3 separate regions of the Homo sapiens genome follow, and all the other regions are linked to region 3. The links come from fine-mapping of genetic effects on gene expression. A gene starts in region 3. Each other region holds a variant in brackets. All regions are shown on one strand. Distances are from middle to middle.

Evidence for each region. PIP is the estimated chance that this variant, and not a neighbour inherited with it, causes the effect. A credible set is the group of variants that fine-mapping cannot tell apart.
Region 1: its variant is the best candidate, but not a certain one, in a credible set for the expression of UBXN6 in whole blood (INTERVAL, PIP 0.74).
Region 2: its variant is the best candidate, but not a certain one, in a credible set for the expression of UBXN6 in whole blood (INTERVAL, PIP 0.79).

The regions. Positions count from the first base shown.
Region 1 is chr19:4,501,205-4,503,942 of GRCh38, reverse strand. HDGFL2 (HDGF like 2) reads right to left here. Exons shown (of 16, transcript NM_001001520.3): 15 at 2,626-2,738; 16 at 1,736-2,032. The coding sequence ends at 1,933. PLIN4 (perilipin 4) reads left to right here. Exons shown (of 8, transcript NM_001367868.2): 8 at 1-1,751. Among named protein-coding and RNA genes, the nearest start is that of PLIN4, 16 kb to the left of the region's middle. The variant A/G (reference allele first, on the strand shown) is at 1,754.
Region 2 is chr19:4,389,826-4,392,577 of GRCh38, reverse strand. All of the region lies in intron 1 of SH3GL1 (SH3 domain containing GRB2 like 1, endophilin A2), which reads left to right. Among named protein-coding and RNA genes, the nearest start is that of SH3GL1, 9.3 kb to the left of the region's middle. RefSeq lists enhancers at 1,351-1,959, 1,960-2,566, 2,567-2,752. The variant A/G (reference allele first, on the strand shown) is at 1,356.
Region 3 is chr19:4,456,389-4,459,140 of GRCh38, reverse strand. It overlaps UBXN6 (UBX domain protein 6), which reads left to right and starts at 1,347. Exons shown (of 11, transcript NM_025241.3): 1 at 1,347-1,526. The coding sequence starts at 1,444. RefSeq lists an enhancer at 1,086-1,285 and silencers at 1,396-1,445, 1,476-1,545.

The sequences.
Region 1 (2,738 bases), 45 kb before region 3:
AGGGTCTTAAGAACCACATTCCCTCATAGTAGAAAGTACTAGAAAAAGCGACACTGCCATCATCATCCCAAGGCAGGCTGCTACTGCCTTTGCTGACCCCCGGGGTGGCCTCACGGTGGGGACAAAGCTGCCAGGAGCCACAGCAGCCACAGCTGGGGCTTTGCACCAGCCTGGCTTGAGACTGAGCAGTTTGCAGGGGGTGGGGGGTGCAAAAAACAAGCAAACAGGCTGCTGCTGCCTCCAGCTGCCCACCACAGGCCTGCCCCAGGCACCTGGGGCTCTGAGGCCCCTGGGGAGGCTGGGCCCAGCAGCTGCCCCTGGAGAACACAGACAAAGGACTTCCCCGCAGGGAACTGTGCCCTATGGAGGGATCAGACAGGGCTGGGAACAGCCACAGAGGCTGCGTGCCTATGGCACAGCCCTTCCTCCGCCGCACACTCCCCCTGGGTCCTCAGGCCCACCCAAGCGCCGGGCTGCAGAGGAAGCGGGGCTGGGGAGGCTGCAGGCATCAGAGACACTGGTGGTGGCGGACCCGGCCGCCGGGCCCCGTGCTCTCAGGCTAGCCCAGGTCGTGGAGGCTGGCAGGCTCAGGTCGGGTGTGAGACGTGCCGTGGCTGCGCTCAGTCCAGCGGGGAGGAGCCGTTCAGCCCGGCCTCCCCAGGAAGCCATATCCCCACTCACCCGGTAAGAGAACCTTGTCGTCCCCTTTCCATGCTCTCCTAGGACACGAGCCCAGGAACCCCAGACCCAGGGGGAGGAAGGGTGGAGGGGCCCCAGGGGTCACCGTGTGCACCAGGGGCCGTGAGGGGCCGGGGCATTCAGCTCAGCTCTGAACCGGGGAAGCTGGCACGGCAAGGACTGCCTCAGGTGACGGGCCGTGAGAGGGGACGGGTCAGGAGCCTTCCCAAGCCTTCTCCTCAGCCCGACACCCATGGCCATCGGAGGCTAGGATGCCAGACACAGCCATTTGCAGAAATCAGGCACAGTGACTGCAGCTCACGTCCAGCCAACCAAGCATGGGGCCGCAGCTCAGGAAGTCCCTTCCCGCCACACCACAGCCTAATTCTTACTGGGACGGAGGCAACTCGGCTACGCTGGGCAGGACGACAAACACGAGACGCCACTGTGGAATGAGCAACTTCGGAGCACGGGGTGACTTGCTTGGGACCGTGCCCACGTGACAGCCCCTTATGCAGAGGAGGAAAGAGAAGCCCCGAGTGGGAGGGGAACCTGTCCAAAGTCACACGGTGTGTGGGTGACACAGCTGGGGTGAGTCGAGGCTGGCCCCTGAGGCCCATGCTCCCTGAACGCTGGAGACCACTGTCGGCTAGCAGCGGCTCTCAGGGAAGGCCTGGTCTCCACCCTCCCAGCCTAGCCTCGCGGACCCTCGTCCTCCCCACATCGGACCTGCTCACCTGCCTGGACCCTGGGCTGCCAGATGCAGGAAGCATCAAACCCCCCAGCCTCGTGGGTGCGGGGCAGGGCGCAGGCAGCACAGCTTAGATGCCCTGGTTTGTCCCTCTTGTCTCCTGGGAAGAGCTTGCTCCCGCCCAGCTCTCCTGCCACTGGCCTTTCAGGGTTGGGCTGGGCCCAGAGTGCCTTTTAGTCGCTTCTCACGGTGGCCTGATGGCTCAACCCAGTCCCAAACGGGCCCAGTGACACTGCCGCCTGCGCCCCAGCTCAGGCCCCCACTGCACCAGCAATGCTAGAAAACCAAGCCAATAAAAGTGATTTCTTTTTTCATTAAAAAACC[A/G]TTTATAGTCATTTCATGTTGGTTGGAAATCACAGAAATTAGGCAGGAAAAAAAAACCCAAGGGAACAAATACAAACAGCACAGCGTTCCCCACAGTTCTCTGCTCTGCTCTCCTGCGAGCCGGGGAAGGAGAGGGGCAGCCTGAGCTCGGGCGGGGGCTGGGCCTGGCTGCCCGCGGCTCAGCTCTCCTCGTCCAGGGCCTCCGAGTCCCCCCGTGCCCTCTCGCGCTCCTGCCGGTCGCTCCCAGGCCTGTCCAGGTCGGGACCCTCCCGTACGCTGCTGGTGGGAACAGCAAAGGCGGTGTGAGGATGCCCTCCCGCCCCTGCCCTGCCTGTAGGGCGGTTGGGTGGGATGGGCACCGAGGAGTGTACCCCCGTTGTGGCACCTGAGGCTCGAGTGCCGCCCTCCTATCTGCCTGTCTTCTGCCACTAGAGACCACAACCATCTCCAGGGTCCCCACGCTGGCGCCAGCCAGGCATAGCACAAGGCAGCTGCTGGGTAAGTGAGTGACTCCACTGAGCCTTGTACCAGACAGCAGCCCACAGTGATGGGCACAGGCACCGTCAGATAGCCGGGTGCCCGTGCTCGGGGCCTACCTACCTGGGCCACCCTGGAGGCTCGGCAAGAAGCCACCTTCCCAGGAGGCCAGGGGCAGGCAGCTCAAAGCCCTGGAGCTGCCTCTCTGTAGGGGCCGCCGGAAGTGCCAGCCAGCGGGGCCCTGGGGTCAGCTGTGAAGGTGGGAGGCCCGAGTAAGGACGACATCCCTGGGACCCATCCCAGAGGGACTGGCACAGGAGGAGCGGCTCGGACCCAGGGTGCGCGTCACACCGCTGCCGCTCAGGAGTCCAAACCCCACGGCCCGGGACACTCACTCGTGCAGGTCTTCAGAGGAGCCACACCTTGGCCCCTCCTCCGAGTCCCGACCCTCCTCGTGCTCCTTGTCCTCTGCGCTCTCCCCCTTCTGTGATGTGGCCTCGCCATTCAC
Region 2 (2,752 bases), 67 kb after region 3:
GATCTTTTGTGTGTGTGTGTGTGTGTGTGTGTGTGTGTGTGTGTGTGTGTGTGTGTGTGACGGAGTCTTGCTCTGTCCCAGGCTGGAGTGCAGCGGGCCGATCTCAGGTCACTGCAACCTCCGCTTCCTGGGTCCAAGTAATTCTCCTGCCTCAGCCTCCTGAGTAGCTGGGAATACAGGCGTGCGCCACCACAGCTGGCCAATTTTTGTATTTTTAGTGGACACAGGGTTTCATCATGTTGGCCAGGCTGTTGTTGAACTCCTGACCTAGTGATCTCCCTGCCTTGCCTCCCAAAGTGCTGGGATTACAGGCGTGAGCCAGTGGGAATAATCTTAAGATACAAAAATATGGGGTTCATAACCCCTTCACCTTGGCACAGATAAAAGTGTATACCCTTGTGCTGGGAGTGACAGGTAGTTGAGAGGCACTTTTGTGTGGGCTGGTAAGGGCCGGCGTTGGTGATTCAGAGGCTGTGCCCGGGACAAGGCCGGTGAGTCCAGCAGCTGCAGGCTGACCTCCGGAAGCCCCCTCTCCCTCGGGGAGGTGTTGGCAACAGATGTAGGAAGGGACTTTGCTTTGTGATGTCCACGTATGATGGGAATGGAGTTAAGTCCGTTCTTGCAGGAAGCTCTGGTGACTGAATCCAGGAACGTGCGGCATGTACTGGTGTGTGCCTTGAGGCATTGGAGCCGGCATTGGAGCCGGCGGCGTGGACCCTGGGCCACCCCAGGACAGGCAGGGCTCACTCTGTTTCTGGCTTGCAGACGGGTGGAACCAGCAGCTGTGTGGAGGCCTGAACTGTGTGCCAGCTGGGCTGTGCAGACACAGAAGTTTGAGACTGCCTTTCCCCAAAGGAAGCTAGAGGCTCCTTACACCCCACGGCTCCCCGGGCCTGTCTGTGAAACCTGGCTCACCTGGCCCCCTTCACAGGGTTGGCTGTTGGTGGTCACTGGGCACTTTGTAACCAAGCAGCATCCTACGTTTTCCCATTCTTAACAAACCAGGACCAAGGGGTCATCAGACTCCGATTTCTGCCACCCGTGACTGCTGTACAGTAGGTCCCAGAACAAGTCAAGGGCTGAAAGTTCGGCTAAAAGTTTGTCTCTGACTCAGAATCCCGTGTTCACCAAAGACCAGTTGGGGCTCCGTGGGTGCTGATCGCCCTGCTTATCTGGGTGTGTGTTAAAGCCCAGCTCTGCAGTACTTAATTATATTCCAGGTGCCCCTAATAACAGCCTGTGAGTGCGAGATGAGGTGTCTCACCTTATGCCGCTCAGTTGAAGAAATTGGGGGCTGTCACATTTTGACACCCCAGACCTATCAAGCACACAGAGAACATGACACTGCTCACCCC[A/G]CCCCTGGCCACCCAGGGGTGGCCGCTGTCACGTGCGCAGTGCACCTGAGGTCTGAGCTGGCAGCTGGGCCCCTCAGATGTCTGTGTGTGTGTCTGTTGCATTTTTTCCTCAAAGGAGAAACCTGCAGGTTGAGGCCCGTCCCGCTCAGACCTGCCTGTGTCTCTGTGTCCAGTGGACTTTAATCCAGGGGCCTAGGGTACAGCCAAGCCTTCACTGCTGCCTTAGCCCTTTTCCTCCTCCGTGATTGTTTCCAGTGTTTTGCAACTGATCTGATCTGGGGAAACGTCGTGTTTAATTTGGAGCATGCTGCCAACGTCCCCAGTAGGATTTCGGAGGCAGCCGCAGGTTTCGGCGCTGCCCGGGGCAGAGCTTAGAGGAGAAGCTCAGAGCGGCCTCCATGTTTCTCTTTTCCAAGCCCCTGAGGTCTTTAAGTGCCGGGAGGGTTGGAAGGGGAAGCATTGCCCCGGGGTGGGGGTGGGGTAGGTGTCAGGAGCTCAACAGGCTCTGGAGGCATCTCAGCAGGACCTGAGCTCTCCAACTCTAATGGCTTTTTAATGTGTGAGCTGAAGTGTCAGGGGGCGGTCTCTTCTGGTTCTTTTTCGAAGCTGTCCCTGGAAAGCGGATGAAAGAATGTGGTGGCCAGGGCTGCAGCGGGTTTCCCTCTCTCCCTTCTCTCCCCTCCTCTCCCTATCTCTCCCCCCTCTTCTTCCTCTCTTTCTGTTCTCACTCTTCCCTTGTCTTTCTCTCTGTCTCTCCCTTCTTTTGCCCTCTCACCTCTTCTTCCTCTCTCTCTGTCTGTCCTCTCCACACCTTCTTCCTGTCTGTCTGCCTGCCTGTCTCTCTCTTTCTCTATCTCTCGCCTTTTGCAGGGCTGGATTTGGCAAGCACTTTTCCTGAGCACTGCAGCTTGGTGCGTTTCTGCTCATTTCCTGTTAAGCAGTACCCAGGGCTCCCTGAACTCAGGCTCTGGGAGGACGGCCCTGTCTTCCTTTTCCTCTCCACTCCTAGAAAAACCTGCTGACCAGGCCCTGAGAGCAGGGTCACGGGGAGACCTCCTCACCACAGCAGGAAGATAGACGGACAGTTTCCTCCATTGGACCTGACTCAGCAGCGGCCCACTGACCGCCTGGGAGGGGGCTCCCGCCTAGCGGGCCGCAGTTCCACACCTGGGTAAGGGGACGAAGCACCCAGCAGGGGTCATGCCGCGTGTGACACAGTCTGTAGGGGCGGTGGTCATGGCAGATACTCAGAATCCAGATGGCATCAGGCCTGCGAGGGCATGGGGTGAGTGGGCCCACTCCCCTCCCTGGGCCGGGAACATGCGTCTCCTCTGCCCTGGCCCCCAAGTGGACAGCTCCCCACATGGTTTCATGCCAATGGGAGTGATTATTCCATT
Region 3 (2,752 bases):
GTTGGCCAGGCTGGTCTCAAACTCCTGACCTCAAGTGATCCGCCGGCCTCGGCCTCCCAAAGTGCTGGGATTAGAGGCATGAGCCACCACGTCTGACCCCCAACTCCCATTTTTTGAGGCTTGTTTTAACTGTCACTTTGTGTATCTTCTTTGTGGATTGCACAGACCAAAGTACGCCACTATTAACTGGTGTCCACCAAAGTGGATCCCCAATCCCCAGGTCCCAATTGGGTGCATTGGGTGCATCCTCTTTTTTTTTTTTTTTTTTTTTTTTTGAGACGGAGTCTCGCTCTGTCGCCCAGGCTGGAGTGCAGTGGTGAGATCTCGGCTCACTGCAAGCTCCGCCTCGCGGGTTCACGCCATTCTCCTGCCTCAGCCTCCCGAGTAGCTGTGAGTACAGACGCCTGCCACCATGCCCGGCTAATTTTTTGTATTTTTAGTAGAGACGGGGTATCACCGTGTTAGCCAGGATGGTCTCGATCTCCTGACCTTGTGATCCGCCCGCTTCGGCCTCCCAAAGTGCTGGGATTACAGGCATGAGCCACCGCGCCCGGCCCAGGTGCATCCTCTTAAACAGCTCCTACCTAGGGTACGTGGTGATGGTGGCGGGGGGGTGCTTCAGGCACCAAAACAGGCCAGATCGTGGGGGCCTCCAATACCCAACATTGAATTGGGATTTTATCACGTAAGCTCTGGGGAGACAGAGAAGGTTGGAATTTTTTTTGTTTTGCTTGAGACAGGGTCTCTCTCTGTCGCCCAGGCTGGAATGCAGTGGCTTGATCACAGCTCACTGCAGCCTCGACCTCTTGGGTTCAAGCGATCCTCCCGCCTCTGCCTCCCAAGTAGCTGAGAGGCGCGCGCCACCACCCTCGGCTAATTTATTTTATTTTATTTTTTTTTTTTTTATAGAGACGAGGTTTTGCCATGTTGCCAGGCTGGTCTCCAACTTCTGGGATCAAGCAATCCTTCCGCTTGAGCCTCCAAAGTGCTGTGATTGCAGGCGTGAGCCACCGCGCCTAGTTTAGGTTGAGCAGCGAAAGGGATAGGGCCCAGTGCTTTCTCTGCGAGGTTCAGTTGGCCTGTCCCTGTCCTATCACCGTTTGTCACCGTTTGGGGAGCGCCACGGAATGCCCTGTCTCCAATCGAGAGGTGCACTCGTCGCCCTGGCAACGGAGTCCGGAAGAACCACAGAGACGCGGCTCCAGCGTACAGAGCGGCCGCCCTGGGCCAGCAAGGCACCGAGCGCTAGAGAGGCACGTCTAGTCGATTGTCACGTGGCAGGCCAGGGGAAGGCGGGACTTCCGGCGGCGAGGTAAATTTTTTTTTTTTTTTTTTTTTTTTTTTTAATTTTCTTCCGGTGGCTGGTCTCCGGCGGCCCCGTCCCCGACTGGGCCCCGTGCCCCCCCGCCCCCGCGGCCCCCCGCCGCCGGGCCAGCCGCCACCATGAAGAAATTCTTTCAGGAGTTCAAGGCCGACATCAAGTTCAAGAGCGCGGGACCCGGTCAGAAGCTCAAAGAGTCCGTGGGGTGCGTGAGGAACGCAGGGGCTTGAGGCCCTGCGGGGCGGGGACGGCCGGGGAGAGAGATCTGGGGCCTTGGGCGGCTCGGGAGATCGGAGAGGATGAGGGGCTGGGAGCGGCACGCGAGGGTCAGGGGAGGGGGAGAGGCGCCGGGGGCGGACGAAGTCGGGCCGAGGGTGGGCGTCAGGGGGAGGGGAGAGAGATCTGGGGGCGGGGCAGGAGGGGGCGGGTATGACCCGGGGGCGCGGCGGGGGAGGCGAGGGGAGGGGAACTAGCGCAGGGGGCGGGGCGGGAGGGGAGGTCTCGGGGGCGGGGCCGCAGGAGGGTCCGATGCAGTGGCGGGGGATTAGGGCGACGGGGCTGTAGGCAGTTGGGGGTCAGTGGAACGACCTTTGGGGAAAAACGGGATCATGAGTCCTGAGCCGGGTGGTGAGGGAGAGCTCTGTCTGGGGACCCGGCTGGCCGAAGAGGCCGGGATGATTTGGGGCAATCTAGGTGACCATGGATGGGAGCTGAGCTTGGAGGAGGACGCACAGCTGTGGGGTGGGGTGGTGAAGAGTTGTTTTGAGGTATCCATGGGAAGAGGGGTTCTGGATTTGGTATCTGGAGCACGTGGGAGGCTGATGGGAGACTAGAAAGAGTCTGGAAGGCCAGGGAGGCCGGGGTGGGCAGCGTCGTCAGTGACCTGGGATGTCCTGGCGAATTGAGAGGGAGGGGCTGAGGAAGGTGTGTGAGGAGAGTGGAGGTGAGGGATTCTGACAGATGGACTCTTACCCGGGAGGGGCCTGAGAGGAGAAGACGGGTGAGACAGACGCGTCTTAGCAGGCTGGGAGAAAGAGCTTCTCTGCGAGGCTTCTCTGCCACGTCACTGTGCCAAGTGGATTATGGAAGTGGGAGAGGAGGGGAAAGGAGATAGATGCCGGGCAGGCTTCCGGATTGTCTAGGGAGGACTTGGAGAGAAGGGCCTGAGCAGGGCTGAGCCAGCTGGGAGGGCCGGGGAAGAAGTGGAGCTAGGGAAGGTGCAAGGCTGAGGGCTGTTGGGTTGAGAAAAGGGAAACTGGAGAGCTGGGGCCGCTGCAGGGAGCTGGCTGGCCAGAGGGTGGTGGGGACTGATGGAGAGGGACTGAGGAAGTCAGCCAGGCAGCCAGGACACGGGTCTGTAAGCAATAGTGGAAGGGATTGTGAGGGAGTGGGGGCTGGGAGAGGCAGGGAGGTGGCAGGAAGTGGGGGTCA